Regions from separate parts of the Homo sapiens genome. Here region 2 is linked to region 1. Evidence: fine-mapped expression QTL. A gene starts in region 1. The other region holds a variant in brackets. All regions are shown on one strand. Distances are from middle to middle.

Evidence for each region. PIP is the estimated chance that this variant, and not a neighbour inherited with it, causes the effect.
Region 2: its variant is the best candidate, but not a certain one, in a credible set for the expression of MYL6B in whole blood (TOPMed, PIP 0.55).

The regions. Positions count from the first base shown.
Region 1 is chr12:56,147,939-56,156,269 of GRCh38, forward strand. MYL6B (myosin light chain 6B) reads left to right here and starts at 4,649. Exons shown (of 8, transcript NM_002475.5): 1 at 4,649-4,693; 2 at 5,935-6,154; 3 at 6,875-6,902; 4 at 7,117-7,260; 5 at 7,481-7,654. The coding sequence starts at 5,981. LOC124902942 reads left to right here and starts at 3,889. Exons shown (of 3, transcript XM_047429954.1): 1 at 3,889-4,109; 2 at 4,468-4,693; 3 at 5,871-5,959. The coding sequence starts at 4,056. The coding sequence ends at 5,905. MYL6B-AS1 (MYL6B antisense RNA 1) reads right to left here. Exons shown (of 3, transcript NR_186043.1): 3 at 2,858-3,047. It overlaps LOC124902943 (a long non-coding RNA gene), which reads right to left and starts at 5,935. Exons shown (of 2, transcript XR_007063328.1): 1 at 5,191-5,935. RefSeq lists an enhancer at 3,723-3,802.
Region 2 is chr12:56,387,813-56,396,143 of GRCh38, forward strand. No RefSeq gene overlaps it. Among named protein-coding and RNA genes, the nearest start is that of APOF, 29 kb to the left of the region's middle. The variant C/T (reference allele first, on the strand shown) is at 5,065.

The sequences.
Region 1 (8,331 bases):
AGGTCAGGAGTTCAAGACCAGCCTGGCCAACATAATGAAACCCCATCTGTACTAAAAAGACAAAAATTGCTGGGCGCGGTGGCTCACACCTGTAATCCCAGCACTTTGGGAGGCCGAGGCGGGCAGATCACGAGGTCAGGAGATTGAGACCATCCTGGCTAACACAGTGAAACCCTGTCTCTACTAAAAAATACAAAAAATTAGCTGGGTGTGGGACGCCTGTAGTCCCAGCTTCTTGGGAGGCTGAGGCAGGAGAATGGCATGAACCCGGGAGGCGGAGCTTGCAGTGAGCCAAGATTGCACCACTGCACTCCAGCCTGGGTGACAAGAGTGAGACTCCATCTCAAAAAACAAACAAACAAACAAAAACTATAACAACTAAATATAAGAAATAGCCAGGTACGGTGGCGCACGAATTTGAGGTTGCAGTGAGCTATGATTGTGCCACTGCATCCAGAGCCTGGGCAACAGAGCAAGCCCCTGTTTCTCGGGGGAGAGGAAAGGAAATGTATACAGAGGCCGGGCGCAATGGCTCATGCCTATAATTCCAGCACTTTGGGAGGCCAAGGCGGTGGCTCACCTGTCAGGAGTTCGAGACCACCCTGGCCAACATGGCAAAACCTTATCCCTACTAACAATACAAAAAAAAAATTAGCCAGGTATGGTGGCACACACCTGTAATCCCAGCTACTTGGGAGGCTGAGGCATGAGAATCACTTGAAACCAGGAGGTGGAGGTTGCAGTGAGCTAAGATGCACCACTGCACTCCAGCCTGGGCCACAGAGCAAGACTCCTGTCTCCCAAACAAAACACAAAAAGGAACGTATACTGAATAAACATGCTTGAAGAGAGCAGCTAAAGGGCCCTAATACAATCTCCTTCTGCTTCTCTTCCTCTCAACCTTTTCCACTGTGCTCTCTGGGAGCCTATTTCCACATAACACTTCCCACCCATTCCACCTTTCTTTTTTTTTTTTTTTTTTTTTTTAGGGGGGTACAGAATTTCACTCTTGTTGCCCAGGCTGGAGTGTAATGGCATGATCTCGGCTCACCACAACCTCCACCTCCCGGGTTCAAGCGAATCTCCTGCTTCAGCCTTCCTGAGTAGCTGGGATTACAGGCATACACCACCACGTCTGGCTAATTTTGTATTTTTAGTAGAGACAGGGTTTCTCCATGTTGGTCAGGCTTGTCTCGAACTCCCGACCTCAGATGATCCGCCCACCTCGGCCTCCCAAAGTGCTGGGATTACAGGCATGAGCCACGGCGCTCAGCCTTTCTCTTTTTTTTTTTAGATGGAGTCACCCTCTGTTGCCCATGCTGGAGTGCAGTGGCACAATCTCAGCTCACTGCAACCTCCGCCTCCTGGGATTCTCATGCCTCAGGCTCCCAAGTAGCTGAGATTGCAGGCGCCTGCCACCACGCCTGGCTAATTTTTGTATTTTTAGTAGAGACAGGGTTTCACCATGTTGGCCACGCTGGTCTCAAACTCCTGACCTCAGGTGATCCACCTTCCTTGGCCTCCCAAAGTGTTGGGATTACAGGAATGAGCCACTACGCCCGGCCTGCTTTTTTTAAAAAATTTTTTAAGGACAGGGTCTCACTCTGTTGCCCAGGCTGGAGGGCAGTGGCACAAACATGGCTCACTGCAGCCTTGACCTACTGGGCCCAAGTGATCCTCCCACCTCAGGCTCCTGAATAGCTGGGATCAGAGGCACACGTGCCACCATGCCTGGCTAATTTTTGAATTTTTTTTGTAGAGTTGGGGTCTCTTGCTATGTTGCCATGGCTGGTCTTGAACTTCTGGGCTCAAGTGATCTTCCCACTTTGGACTCCCAAAGTGCTGGGAATGTTCATGTCTGATTAACCCCAGTTTTGGGAATGCCTCTAAGATTTCTATTTTATCTACTGTTCTTTGTGTAAGAGCATGTACTTACCATAATTTCTCCTTAGATCAAAACAATCTTGATCATAAAGCCTGGCTTACTGAGTATTCTTGCCTTTCCCTGCAGGGTAGACTTCAATTGTCCTAGAGGTTCCTTCCCTGTGGTAAGTCCTGGGGTCAGGACTTACTCCAGGGGATGATGTCCTGGGGATCCACCATCGTGTCTCACCACTACCCAAGACACAGACATGGCTTCTGTTCATAAATTCCTATTAAATATTTCTAAGAAACTGGATTTGTCAGCCTCCTTCCTCAACCTCTTAGCTTCCTTGGACTTTGGGGGTAAGTGTGCATAGACCTGTGCACTGCGGAACAGCTCCCCAATGGCTTTCCATATTCTTTCAATCTAATGGGCCACTCTGGACAGCTGAACATGTGGAGGTTCCTGGAGGACGGCATGCCTAGGGAAGGCAAGCAAGCTTCGGACTCACCTCCCTCCCTGCCCACAAAATGCAATCTCTAAGAATATACAGGCCAGTCAAGGTAGGTCATACCTATAATCCCAGCACTTTGGGAGGCACCTGAGATGGGAAGATCACTTGAGCTCAGTTTGAGACTGGGTAACACAGTGAGACCTCATTTCTAGAAAAAAACAAAACCAAAGAAAAATAAGAATATACAAATCACATGCTAAGCAGGGAGAGGAGAGAGGAGAGACAGGCATTTCTCACAGATAATTCACATATATAATCACCCTATGCCCAGTTAAGACCATGTTTCGTCCAGTTCCTGTTATTTATGATCAAGACAGGGATGGCACAGAAAATGAAGGATAGCCTTCCCATCTCTGCAAGGGTCTTAACGTTTTTTCCCTGTACTACTTCTCTATAGAAAATGCTAGAAAGTCAGATGATGCCATAACCACTCATACTTGGCAAAATGCCAAAAATGGGAAAAGGAAAGAAAAAAAATTACAAGAGCCATATTTTGAAATCAATGTCTGCAAAAGTAATGAAAGCCACACAAAGGCATCTATAATGTGGCCCTTTCCCAGTCTTATAACCACTTAAAAATGTATTCCTTCTTCCTCTCCGTCTCTTCACAACACCTATTGATCCTTACTTCATTGATGTAAAATGGGGAAAATATCAGCGACCTCATACCTTGGGAAGATTAAAGGAAAGTTATTTAACAAAAACTTATACAGCACTTATGCTGTGCCAGGCCTATTCTATTTTACACTTTTTTTTTTTTTTGAGTTGGAGTCTCACTCTGTCACCCAGGCTGGAGTGCAGTGGTGCGATCTCGGCTCACTGCAACCTGCCGGGTTCAAGTGATTCTCCGACCTCAGCCTCCCAAGTAACTGAGATTACAGGCGCCCGCCACCAGGCCCAGCTATTTTTTTTTTTTTTTTTTTTTTTTTTTTTTTTTGTATTTTTAGTAGTGACAGGGTTTCACCATGTTGGCCAGGCTGGTCTCGAACTCCTGACCTCAGGTGACCCACCTGCCTCGCCTCCCAAAGTGCTGGGAGGTGTGAGCCACCAAGCCCGGCCCTATTTTACCAATAATAACACTTCGAATCCTCCGAAGAGCCCTATGAGGTAGGTACCATTATCATTATTTTACAGATGAGGAACTGAGGCCCAGGAGAGATAACTAAACCTGCTGAGGGTCACTAACTAGGACCTGGTAGAACCAGGATTTAAATCTGAGTAGGCTGTCTGAACCCCATCCACTTGAGCACCCTCTGAGATAATTTAGCCCCTTCACCGGTACGAGATCTATGGCGGCCTCCAGAAATGGTTGCTAACTTACTATTATCGTTATTTCTGTCGTACAATTCATTTCTACCTTTCCAATAAACTTTCCCCAACCAGTGAACCTCACTTACTGCCCATAAAGTTCACCTGTGCCTCACCACCCTGCCATCGCCCGAGTTTTCTGCTCTGATCTAATCCTCACACGCCTGTGCAGCACCAGCTTCCAACACCAGGTGCACCGCCAGGGTATTTACTGATCCAGTGAGTGAAGGTGGGCCCGGCCGGGCTGGTTCCCATCCTCTGATCAACGCCTAGGGGAACCAGTGAACTCCAATGCTGACCATAAGAGTTTCAGAAAGTAGGGCTGGAAAGCCCAGCCCTCCGCTCAGAGACCTGTGAAGATCGAGGAGGATGGCGCATATGCTGCCGCAGGATGGAAACCTCGATCAGAGAAGGCTGGGGCAGGTGACTGGGCTTAATTGCAAATTTTAACATTTACTTCAGCAACCAGCTCATTAAAAACAAACTACTCTGAGGCCTCTTTTTTTTCTACCAAACCGCGAGAGGAAGCAAAAGAGAGTGCAGCGGTTCTCCCCGGGGCCGTTAAGTGCTTCCAGCTATCTGACCTCCACGCTGCCTGCTGCAGCCTCAATCTTTCCCCAGGTTCTGAGTTCTTTCAGCAGTAGGTCCAGGAAAACAGCCGCCCCGCCCCCTCCACCTCCCGAGACTAGGAGCCCGCCAGGGTTAAGTAGGAGGGATACCCTAGGGGCCCCGCAGGGTTTTTAGGGTTGGGGTGGATTGGAAATTGTTCATTGCCTTTCAGTTCCGGGACATAAAGCGCGCTGGAAGGACACTGAGTCACCAACCACCGCCATGGGCCGGAAGCCACCGCCCTCGCGTCAACTGCAATCTAGAGCGCGGCGCATCCCGTGAGCCCGCGGGGAACTACGACTCCCGGCATGCTCCGCGGCCACCGGAATTAACCCTTCAGGGCTGGGGGCCGCGCTATGCCCCGCCCCCTCCCCAGCCCCAGACACGGACCCCGCAGGGTGAGTTTTTGGGGGCTGAGGAGGGCCATTTTCTTTAAGATTTAGTGGGGGTGCGTGAGTGTGTGTGTGTGTGTGTGTGTCGTGTGTGTGTGATGTATTTTGTAAAAATGGGACAATTTGCAGTCATGAGATTCAGACGCTGTTTTGCGAATGGGAGACCCAGCATCAACCCCGGGGCCTAAGTGGAATCACTGCTATCTTCCTCAGAATGCTACCTAAATCCTTTCCTAATTTACCCCAGAACAAAAGTAGCCTGCAATCCCTCCCCACTCCCAAACGCCCCCCAACTTGGACTCTCTCCCAGCGCCCCTGGCAAGGTTTGTGACCTGGCCCCTGAGTCAGGATTTTTATTATACCCCTGGTTGTGGGGTGAATACTCATGGAGCCATAGGAGCGCCCACATCCTCTTGGATTAGGGAATTTAAGCCGTCTCCCAGAGCCTGCCCTTCTCCTCAGGTGCCACCAAAGGGTCCCCACAGGTTCAGCAAGCACCCTACCTTTTGTTTGTCTTGAATGACCGTGGGCTTGTGGAAGGTTTCTTCCATGGAAGAATGGGTAGCAGATGTTAAACCTGATCTTTGCCCCCACTCCTGCCCCTAAAACAACACTGGGCACAGGAGACAATGAGGGATGTCATACTCCTGTTTTTATGACTATTCTTCCTTTATACTGTGAATAGTTCCAGTTCTTGGCTGGGTGGGGGCTCAGGAACTACAAGTATTAGGGATCATTAGACTCTAAGGTTAACTACCCCTGCTCTTTACAAAGCCATGGTCAGAAGGGAGTGGAGGGGCTGGGCAGATGGGCTTCTTGTTTTTGTCATTGCTCCCAGACCACACTTTAACTTGTTCCAGTTCACACAAGCCTCCCTGGCTGCTACCCCTCACCCCACCCTTCAAGAAGACTAAAGCTGCTGGATCACCTGCTTTGCCTCACCACCCCCATCTCAGTGCCACTGGCAAGCATCCTATCCTCACCCTGGAGGTTAACTACCTCATTCTGGGCAGTCTCTGGCTTCCTCCCCTACCCCTAAAGGAAACATTGTTCTTTTCTGGTCAGCCTTTGGGGATAAGGGGACAGAGGGAAGAAGACCTTGGGGCAGGAGTCCTGAACCATAGGAGGCCAGGGGAGTGAGGGCAGGCGGTTATATCTCTCCTCTACCTCATCTTTGCCACAGCCAACTGGCTCCCTGCCCCTGCCCCCGCCCCTTGACATCCCAGACTCCCTGGCTATTTAAACAGAGATGGGTGCCCCCATCCGCACACTGTCCTTTGGCCACCGGACATCATGCCTCCCAAGAAGGATGTTCCCGTGAAGAAACCAGCAGGGCCCTCCATCTCCAAACCTGCTGCTAAGCCAGCAGCAGCAGGGGCTCCTCCAGCCAAGACCAAAGCTGAGCCAGCTGTCCCCCAGGCCCCTCAGAAAACCCAGGAGCCTCCAGTCGATCTCTCCAAAGTGGTGGTGAGTCTCTGGAAAGTGAAGATAGAATTGGAGGGGGTGGTTTGAGGGTGGGATACAGCCTAGGGGATTAGGGGGTATCTAGAAGGTAGGGAATCAGTGAGCCCTGGAATGAGATTGGGGCTTTCCCTTAGTCCCCCATTTGGAAGCATCCAGTCTTATGACTCTGCTGTTGTCTTTGCTGTTCTCTCCCTCTAACCTATAATCATGTGTGTACAGCACATACACACTCACTTACCCCCTGCTGGAGGCAGGGACTCTTAGATGGGGAACATCTGGGTTCTGAGAACAGTTTCAAGGTGAAGGGAAGAGAGCTGTTGCCTGCCCCTGGCTGGTGGTTCAATTCAAAAGGCCTGCAGCTCTGAACTCCAGGAGGGGAGGCTGAAGAGGACAGACTTGTTAGACAATCACAGCTGGGGGCCAGGGGTAAATTTAGCCTTTGTTCAGCCCCCAGTTATGTGTGGGATGCAGGGCTCAGGGCAATGGAGGGAGGGAAACAGGTGGCATGGGATTAACCCTGTTCCCAGGAAACCCTCCCCACTGTAATTCCTCTTCTTGGGATTCTCCCAAGGCCCAGAGCTGGGAATGGGACTGAGGTGGCTGGGCTTCCAGCCTGGTCCCTTTGGGCCCCTCCTCAGAAGTGGCTGCCAGTTGGTTGGGAGGAGTGCGGGAGAGGGATTGAATAAACTCTCATCTCTCCCCACCTGCTTTTTTCTTCCACAGATCGAGTTTAACAAGGACCAGCTGGAGGGTGAGGAGAAGCTCATCTAAGGCCACTGTCCCATCCCCAATCCCCTGGTCAGATTCTCTTTCTATTCCCCTAACCCCAGTCCTGACCTTGAAACCTCCCATACTAGTCCTCTTTTCCTCCCTTGTTCTGTTCACATAGTTTCTGAAATTCCCTTCTGTCTGGGGGTGATGGGAACCCTAGTCAGTGTCTACACTGACCCTTCCTTATACTTTAGAGTTCAAGGAGGCCTTCGAGCTGTTTGACCGAGTGGGGGATGGCAAGATCCTGTACAGCCAGTGTGGGGACGTGATGAGGGCCCTGGGCCAGAACCCCACCAACGCCGAGGTGCTCAAGGTCCTGGGGAACCCCAAGAGTGATGGTGAGGGGACCCTTGGGAACAATTTGGGTTTTTAGTTTTCAAAAGTTGGATGTTGGTAACAAAAAGAATGAGGTGGATCTCAGGACTTCAAAAACTGTCAAACACAGAAGCAGGAAAATATCCTAAATGCTGAATAGGATGAAAGCATTGTGGTAGGGTTGGGAGCTGGGTCCTATGTAATACTACAATGACCTCTCCTTTACCTCTCTCCAACCTCCAGAGCTGAAGTCGCGGCGTGTGGACTTTGAGACTTTCCTGCCCATGCTCCAGGCAGTGGCCAAGAACCGAGGCCAAGGCACATATGAGGACTACTTGGAGGGGTTTCGTGTGTTTGACAAGGAGGGGAACGGCAAAGTCATGGGAGCAGAGCTCAGACATGTTCTCACCACCCTTGGTGAGGCAGGCAAGGGGGACCAGAACTCCTTTAGAGTGGAGAGGGGGATGGGGTGGGCCAGAAAGACTGGACAGATAAGCAGAGCTAGCAGGAGGCTTACTGTCCTGCAGGTTGTCGGCAGGAGACTGAGAAGGTCAGAGCTATGGGGGTAGAATCTGAAGGACTCGCTCTTCCAGAGGCTAAAGTGCCATCCGGAGGGCAGAGGAAAAGGGATGAGGCGGGAAACCTGAATTTTCATTTTGGAAGAGACGTGTGGGTTGTGTGTTCTGGTACAAGTCTCGTAACCTCCTGGGATTGTTTCCTTGTGGGTCAATACTTTCAGCAGTACTAGGGTGAAATGGAAAGCAAGAGGCATCCATGACCAGGGGAGGATTCCCTTGAGGACTGAGGCTATGGGAGAAGAAGAGGTACCACTCTAAAGAGCGTGGCCTGGCCAGGTATGGTGGCTCACGCCTGTAATCCCAGCATTTTGGGAGACCAAGGCGGGCGGATCACCTTAGCTCGGGAGTTCGAGACCGGCCTGGCCAACATGGTAAAACCCCATCTCTATTAGTAATATAAAAACTAGGCGGGCATGGTGGCACGCACCTATAATCCCAGCTACCCAGGAGGCTGAGGCAGGAGAATCGCTGGAACCCGGGAGTCTGAGGTTGCAGTGAGCCGAGAGATCATGCCAC
Region 2 (8,331 bases), 240 kb after region 1:
TTATTAACATCTTACATAGGTGTGCTACATTTGTTATAATTGATTATTGTATTATTATTATTGAGACAAGGTCTCACTCTGTCACCAAGGCAGTAGTGCAGTGGTGTGATAATAGCTCACTGCAGCCTTGACCTCCCAGGCTCAAGTGATCCTCCTGCTTTAGCCATCCATGTAGGTGGGACAACAGGCATGTACCATGATGCTTGGCTAATTTTTTAATATTCTGTAGAGACAGGGTCTCACTTTGTTGCCCAGGCTTGAGCTGATTCTGGAAGGATGGCTAGTGGTTGGATAGAACCCTCCAATAAAGAGACTGGCATGATCCACAGCTTGGGGCATGAAAAGGCCTGCTCTGTGTGGGTGACTGAAAATAGTCAAGGGGGGCTGGGAATGGTGGCTCACGCCTGTAATCCAGCACTTTGGGAGGCCAAGGTGGGTGGATCACCTGAGGTCAGGAGTTAGAGACCAGCCTGGCCAACATGGTGAAATCCCATCTCTACTAAAAATATAAAAAATTAGCTGAGTGTGGTGGTGCACACCTGTAATCCCAGCTACTCGGGAGGCTGAGGCAGGAAAATTGCTTGAAGCCGGGAGGTGGAGGCTGCAGTGAGCCAAGATTGCGCCACTGTACTCCAGCCTGGGCAACAGAAAAATGGACACTCTGTCTCAAAAAAAAAAAAAAGAATTTTTGCAGAGGCTGGGCTTAGTGACTCACGCCTATAATCCTAGCACTTTGGGAGGCCATGGCAGGCAGATCACTTGAGGCTAGGCGTTTGAGACCAGCCTGGACAACATGGTGAAACTCCATCTCTACTAAAAATACAAAAATTAGGCCTGGCGTGGTGGCTCATGCCTCTAATTCCAGCACTTTGGAAGGCTAAGGCGGGTGGATCACCTGAGGTCAGGAATTCAAGACCAGCCTCGCCAACATGGTGAAACCCTGTCTTTACTAAAAATATAAAAATTAGCCAGGCGTGGTGGCCTGTAATCTCAGCTACTCCGGAGGCTGAGGCAGGAGAATTGCTTGTACCTGGGAGGTGGAGGTTGCAGTGAGTCGAGATCATGCCATTGCACTCCAGCCTGGGCGACAAGAGTAAAACTCTGTCTCAAAAAAAAAAAAAAAAAAAAAAAAAGGAAAGAAAGAAAGAAAGAAAAATTAGCCAGGTGTAATCCCATCTACTTGGGAGGCGCTGAGGCACAAGAATTGATTGAACCTGGGAGGCGGAGTTTCAGTGAGCCAAGATCATGCCACCGCACTCCAGCCTGGGTGACAGAGCAAGACTGTCTCCAAACAAAAAAAAAAAAAAGAATTTCTGCAGACAGAATAGAAAATGAACTTGAACTAAGGAACTAAAGGAAGAAGAGATTAGAGGGAGGAACCCTAGAACCCTAGAGAGCCAGCTATTTTAAGAGTCTAGGTCAGGCCAGGCACAGTGGCTTATGCCTTTGGGAGTCCAAAGCAGGAGGATCACTTGGGCCCAGGGGATTGAGACCAGCCTGGACAGCATAGTGAGACCTTGTCTCTACAAAAACTTTCAAAGTAGCTGAGCATGATGGTGCATTCCTGTAGTCCCAGCTCCTTGGGAAGCTGAGGTGGGAGGATCACTTGAGCTCCAGAGGTCGAGGCTACGGTGAGCTGTAATCGCACCACCGCACTTCATCCTAGGTGACAGAAGGAGATCCTATCTCAAAAAAGGAAAAGAAAAAAAAAAGAAAAAGAAAAAAAGGAGGAGGGGATGCATTTTGGTGGTTGAACCAATGTATTATAGTATGTGTCTCATTCTCTTAAGCTCCGTCAGCAGCAGCTGCAGTAAAAACAACTTTATTTGATCTATGACCCTGGGTGGTGGAAGTTAAGGAGGAGGGAAGCAATTAGTTTCCTGGAGTCCCAACCTTAGTCCCAAGAGGTCTCTTTTACATACATGGAGAGCCAGTAGCTGAATGGGACAAAAAAGAACCCAGGAAGTAAGTGAAAGGTCTTTAGACAAAATGGGTATGGGGTTTCTTTTTGGGGTGAAGAAAATGTTCTGGAATTATTGGTGACAGTTGCACAAAACTGTAAATGTACTGAAAGATACTGAGTTGTACACTTCAAAATGGTTAAAATAGTGAATGTTATGTGAATTCTACCCGCCCCCCCAAAATAAAAAGAAGACATTCAAAATCTCAAAGGATTCATCACTGGCAGACTTGCAGTATAAGAAATGTTTTTTGTTTCTTTTTTCAGGGGGAGGGTCTTGCTCTGTCTCTGAGGCTGGAGTGCAGTGGCCCAATCTCAGCTCACTGCAACCTCTGCCTCCCAGGCTGAAGCCATCCTCCTGCCTCAGCCTCCTGAGTAGCTGGGACTACAGGCACGTACCACCACACCCAGCTTATTGTTGTACTTTTTGTAGAGACAGGGTTTTACCATGTTGCCCAGGCTGGTCTGAAACTCTTGAGCTCAGTTGATCCACTCACCTTGGCCTCCCAAAGTGCTGGGATTACAGGCATGAGCCACTGCACCTGGCCTAAGAAATGTTAATAAAAGTCTGTAGACAGAGGAAAATGACTTCCATTGAAAATCTGGATGTACATAAAGAAATGAAGACCATAGGAAATAGTAAATAGGTAAATATACATTTTTGTTTATTTGTGTGTGTGTGTGTGTGTTTTCTTTTGAGATGGAGTCTCACTCTGTAGCTCAGGCTGGAGTGCAGTGGCACAGTATCGGCTCACTGCAACCTCCGTCTCCTGGGTTCAAGCAATTCTGCCTCAGCCTCCCGAGTAGCTGGGATTACAGGCGCCCACCATTACGTCTGGCTAATTTTTAAAATATTTTTAGTAGAGACAAGGTTTCACCATGTTGGCCAGGATGGTCTCAAACTCCTGACCTCAGGTGATCCGCCCGCCTCGGCCTCCCAAAGTGCTGGGATTACAGGCATCAGCCACCGCGCCTGGCTTAAGAAATGTTAATAAAAGTCTGTAGACAGAGGAAAATGACTTCCATTGAAAATCTGGATGTACATAAAGAAATGAAGACCATAGGAAATAGTAAATAGGTAAATATACATTTTTGTTTATGTGTGTGTGTGTGTGTGTGTGTGTGTGTGTGTGTTTTCTTTTGAGATGGAGTCTCACTCTGTAGCTCAGGCTGGAGTGCAGTGGCACAGTATCGGCTCACTGCAACCTCCGTCTCCTGGGTTCAAGCAATTCTGCCTCAGCCTCCCGAGTAGCTGGGATTACAGGCGCCCACCATTACGTCTGGCTAATTTTTAAAATATTTTTAGTAGAGACAAGGTTTCACCATGTTGGCCAGGATGGTCTCAAACTCCTGACCTCAGGTGATCCGCCTGCCTCGGCCTCCCAAAGTGCTGGGATTATAGGCATGAGCCACCGTGCCCGGCCCCTTAAATATACATTTTTAAAAGAGATAATTGACTATTGACTATTTAAGGCAAAAATAATGTAGTTTATAACATATGTAAGTGTAAAATGTAACAATAGCACAAAGGCTGGGAGGGAGAAAATGGAAGTATACTATGGTTTCTTACACTGTAAATAGCACCTGAAGGTAGTCTGTAATAAATTAGAGATGATTACTATAAACCCTAAAGCAACACTAAAATAACAAAGCAGGTGTGGCACAGTGGCTTATATCTGTAATCTCAGCACTTTTGAGGCTGAGGCAGGAGGATCACTTGAAGCCAGGAGTTTGAGATTAGCCTGAGCAACATAGCGAGATGCCATCTCTACAAAAAATAAAAAATGTTATTCAGGGGCTGGGTGCAGTGGCTCACATCTGTAATCTCAGGACTTTGAGAAGCTGAGGCAGAAGGATTATGTGAGCCCAGAAGTTCAAGACCAGCCTGGGCAACATACGGAGCCTCCATCTCTATAAAAAATAAAAAATTAGCCAGGTGTGATGGCACAAACCTGTGGTCTCAGCTACTTGAAGGTGGGAGGATCACTTGGATGTGGGAGGTGGAGACTGCAGTGAGCCATGATTGCACCACTGCACTCCAGCCTGGGTGATAGAGCAAGACCATGTCTAAAAAAAAAAAAAAAAAGCCAGATGTAGCGGCACATACCTGTAGTCCCAGCTACTTGGGAGGCCAAGGTGGGAAGATTGCTTGAGCCCAGGAGTTTGAGACTGCAGTGAGTCATAATTGCAAAATGCACTCCACACTGGGTGACAGAGCAAGACCCTGTTACAGAAAGGGAAAAACAAAACAAAACAAAACAAAAACAGAAGATAGAATTATAAAAAAATACTGAGTTAAACCCAAAGAAGAGCTGGGTGCAGTGGTTCATGCCTACAATCCCAGCACTTTGGGAGGCCGAGGTGGGCAGATCATAAGGTCAGAAGATCAAGACCATCCTGGCTAACACAGTGAAACCCCGTCTCTACTAAAAATATAAAAAATTAGCTGGGTGTGGTGGTGGGCACCTGTAGTCCCAGCTACTCGGGAGGCTGAGGCAGGAGAATGGTGTGAACCCAGGAGGCAGAGGTTGCAGTGAGCCAAGATCATGCCACTGCACTCCAGCCTGGGCGACAGAGCAAGACTCTGTCTCAGAAAAAAAAAAAAAAAAAAAAAAACCCAAAGAAGAAAGAGAGGAAAGGAGAACAAGGAACAGATGAGACAAATAGAAAACAAGTAGCAAAATGTAATATTTAAACCTGACAATGTCAATAATGATATTAAATATAAATGGTCTAAACAACAAAATTAAAAGGCAAAGATTGTCAGATTGGATAAAAGAAAAAAGTCCAGCTATGTGCTTTCTACAAGAAACCCACTTTAAAAGAAACAAATAAATTATAAGTAAAAGGATTTTTAAAACTATACCATGCTAACACTAACCTAGAGAAAGCTGGAGTGGCTATGTTAATATCACAAAAGCAGACTTCAGGGCTGGAAATGGTGGCTCACGCCTGTAATCCCAGCACTTTGGGAGGCCGAGGCAGGAGGAATGTGTGAGCTAAGTTTGAGACCATCTTGGGCAACATAGTGAGACACTGTCACTATAAAAACAGATTTTTTTTTTTTTAAGAAAGAAAAGTAGGCCGGCAGTGGTGGCTCACGC[C/T]TGTAATTCCAGCACTTTGGGAGGCCAAGGTGGGCAGGTCACGAGGTCAGGAGCTCGAGATCAGCCTGACCAACATGGTGAAACTCCATCTCTACTAAAAATATAAAAATTAGCTGGGTGTGGTGGCGCGCACCTGTAGTCCCAGCTACTCAGAAGGCTGAGGCAGGAGAATCGCTTGAACCCGGGAGGTGGAGGTTGCAGTGAGCCAAGATCACGTCACTGCACTCCAGGCTGGTTGACAGAGCGAGACTCCATCTCAAAAAAAAAAAGAAAAAAAGAAAAGTAGACTTCAGAGGAAAGAATATTATAGGGATAAATAATGTCATTTGACAGTGAAAAAGGGGCCAATTTATTAAGATGACCTAACAATTCTAAGCATTTATACATATGATAACAGAGCTTCAAAACACAAGAAGCAGGCTGGGCACTGTGGCTCATGTCTAATCCCAGTACTTTGGGAGGCTGAGACAGGTAGATCACTTGAGGTCAGGAGTTTGACACCAGCCTGCCCAACATGGCAAAACCCTATCTCTACTAAAAATACAAAAATTAGCCAGGTGTAGTGGTGCACACCTGTAGTCCCATCTACTTGGGAAGCTGAGGCATGAGAATTGCTTAAAACCGGGAGGCAGAGGTTGCAGTGAGCTGATATCATGCCACTGCACTCCAGCCTGGGTGACAGAGCAAGACTCTGTTTCAAAAAAAAAAAAAAAAAAAAAAAATCCAAAACAATGTACCAATAAATTTAAAAGGATTCAAGTCATACAAAGTATGTTCCTTGAGCACAGTGGAATTAAATTAGAAACTAATTACTGATATCTGGATGATAGCCTAGTATTTGGAAACTAAATAACACACATTTAAGTAATTTTCATTTCAAAGAGTAAAAAGAAAATTCAAAAAGTACTTTGAGCTGAATGAAAATAAAAACAGAACATGTCAAAATTTGTAAGATGTTGCTAAAGCTGTGCTTAGAAGGAAATTTAGAGCACATGAACATACAGATTCAAGAAATGGAGTGAACCCTAAGTAGAATAAATTCAAAGAAATCTATTGCAAGACACATCATAAGCAAACTTCCTAAAATAAATACAAAGAAAAAAGTCTTGGAAGCAAATAGAAACAACATAGTACCTATAAAGGAACAATTATTCCATTGACAGTAGATTTCTTATAAGAAGCCATAGAGACCAGCAGGGAATGGCACATTTTCCAAGTACTCAAACAAACAAACAAACAAACAAACAGACAAACGTCAACTTTAAATCCCATACCCAGCAAAAATATCCTTCAGGAATGAAGGTGAAATCAAGAGCTTCTCAGATAAGGGAAACTAAGATAATTTGCTTCCACCAGACCTACTCTTAAAAAAAAAAGAAAGAAACAAAGCTTAAAACATTGTGAAGAAAATTTGGGAGGCTGAGATAGGCAGATCACTTGAGGTCAGGAGTTCAAGACCAGCATGGCCAACATGGCGAAACACCATCTCTACTGAAAATACAAAAATTAGCCAGGCATGGTACCGCACGCCTGTAGTCTTAGCTACTCGAGAGGCTGAGGCAGGAGAATCACTTGAACCTGGGAGGCAGAGGTTGCAGTGAACCAAGATCACATCACTGCACTCCAACACTGGGCAACAGAGTGAGACTCCATCTCAAAAAAAAAAAAAACCAAAAAACCAAACAAAACAAAAATTATGAAGAAAGAAGAGGAAGTATAAAAATATAAATACATGACAATAGGTCAATCTTCTCATCTTGAGTTTTCTAAATTATATTGGATGGCTGAAGTAAAAATTATATTATCTGATATGGTTCTCAATATATAGATAGGAAATATTTAAGATAATTATAGTATACAAGGGGGAGGGAATGTTAAGGGACCTAAATGGAGGTAAGATTTCTATACTTTACTCAAACTGATAAAATGTTGACACCAGTAATTGTGATAGGTTTCATATGTATAATGCAATATCTAGACCAACCACTAAAAACATTCATAATAAATAAAAATTTATAACAGATAAATCAAAAAGGAATTTAAAGAAATGTTCAAGTAATCCACAGGAAGGGGAAAAAGGTCAAAGAGTAATGAAAATGAGAGCTGAAACAAACAAAAAGAAACATAAAATGGCAGACTTAGCCCTAATATATCAAAAATTACATTAAATGTAAATGATCTAGGCATACCAATTAAAAGACTGGTAGAAAAATAAAAAACAACATGTATATGTACATGTACATGTAAATATAATGACATAGGTAAGTTGAATGTAAAAGGATAGGCCAGGTGCGGTGGCTCACATATGTAATCCCAGCACTTTGGGAGGCTGAGGTGGGTGGATCATCTGAAGCCAGGAGTTTGAGACCAGCCTGGCCAACGTGGAGAAACCCCACCTCTACTAAAAATACAAAAAATTAGCCAGGCGTGGTGGCACCTGCCTGTAATCCCAGCTACTCGGGAGACTGAGGCAGGAGAATCGCTTGAACCCAGGAGGCGGAGGCTGCAGTGAGCCGAGATCACGCCATTGCACTCCAGCCTAGGCAACAAGAGTGAAAGACCATCTCAAAAAAATAAAAAATAAAAAATAAAAGATAAATCATACACATATTACTCAAAAGAAATCAGGACTGGCCATGCTAATACCAGATAAAATGAATTAAGAGCAATGAAAATTACTGCAGATTGAGAGGAACATTGTTTAATTAATAAAGGGTTAACCCACCAAGAGGGCACAGCCATTTTTTAAAATATAGTTTTGCTCTGTCACCCAGGCTGGAATGCAGTGGTCAGATCATGGCTCTCTGCAGCCTTAACCTCCCAGGCTCAAAAGATCCTCTGACCTCAGCCTCCTAAGTAGCTGGGACTACAGATGCACACCACCACACCTGACTAATTTTTGTATTTTTTTTGTAAAGATACTTTCACCATGTTGCCCAGGCTGGTCTTGAACTCCTGGCATCAAGTGATCCACCTGCCTCAATCTTCCAAAGTGCTGGGATTAGAGGCATGAGCCACCGTGCCCAGCCTAAGACACAGCAATCCTAAATGTGTACATATCAAACAACAGAGGCCAGGTGCAGTGGCTCATGCCTGTAATCCCAGCACTTTGGGAGGAGGTAGAGGCAGGCAGGTCACTTGGGGCCAGGGGTTCAAGATCAGCCTAGCCAACATGGTGAAACCCCATCTCTACTAAAAAATACAAAAATCTGCCAGGTGTGGTGGCATGTGCCTGTTATCCCAGCTACTCAGGAGGCCGAGTCATGA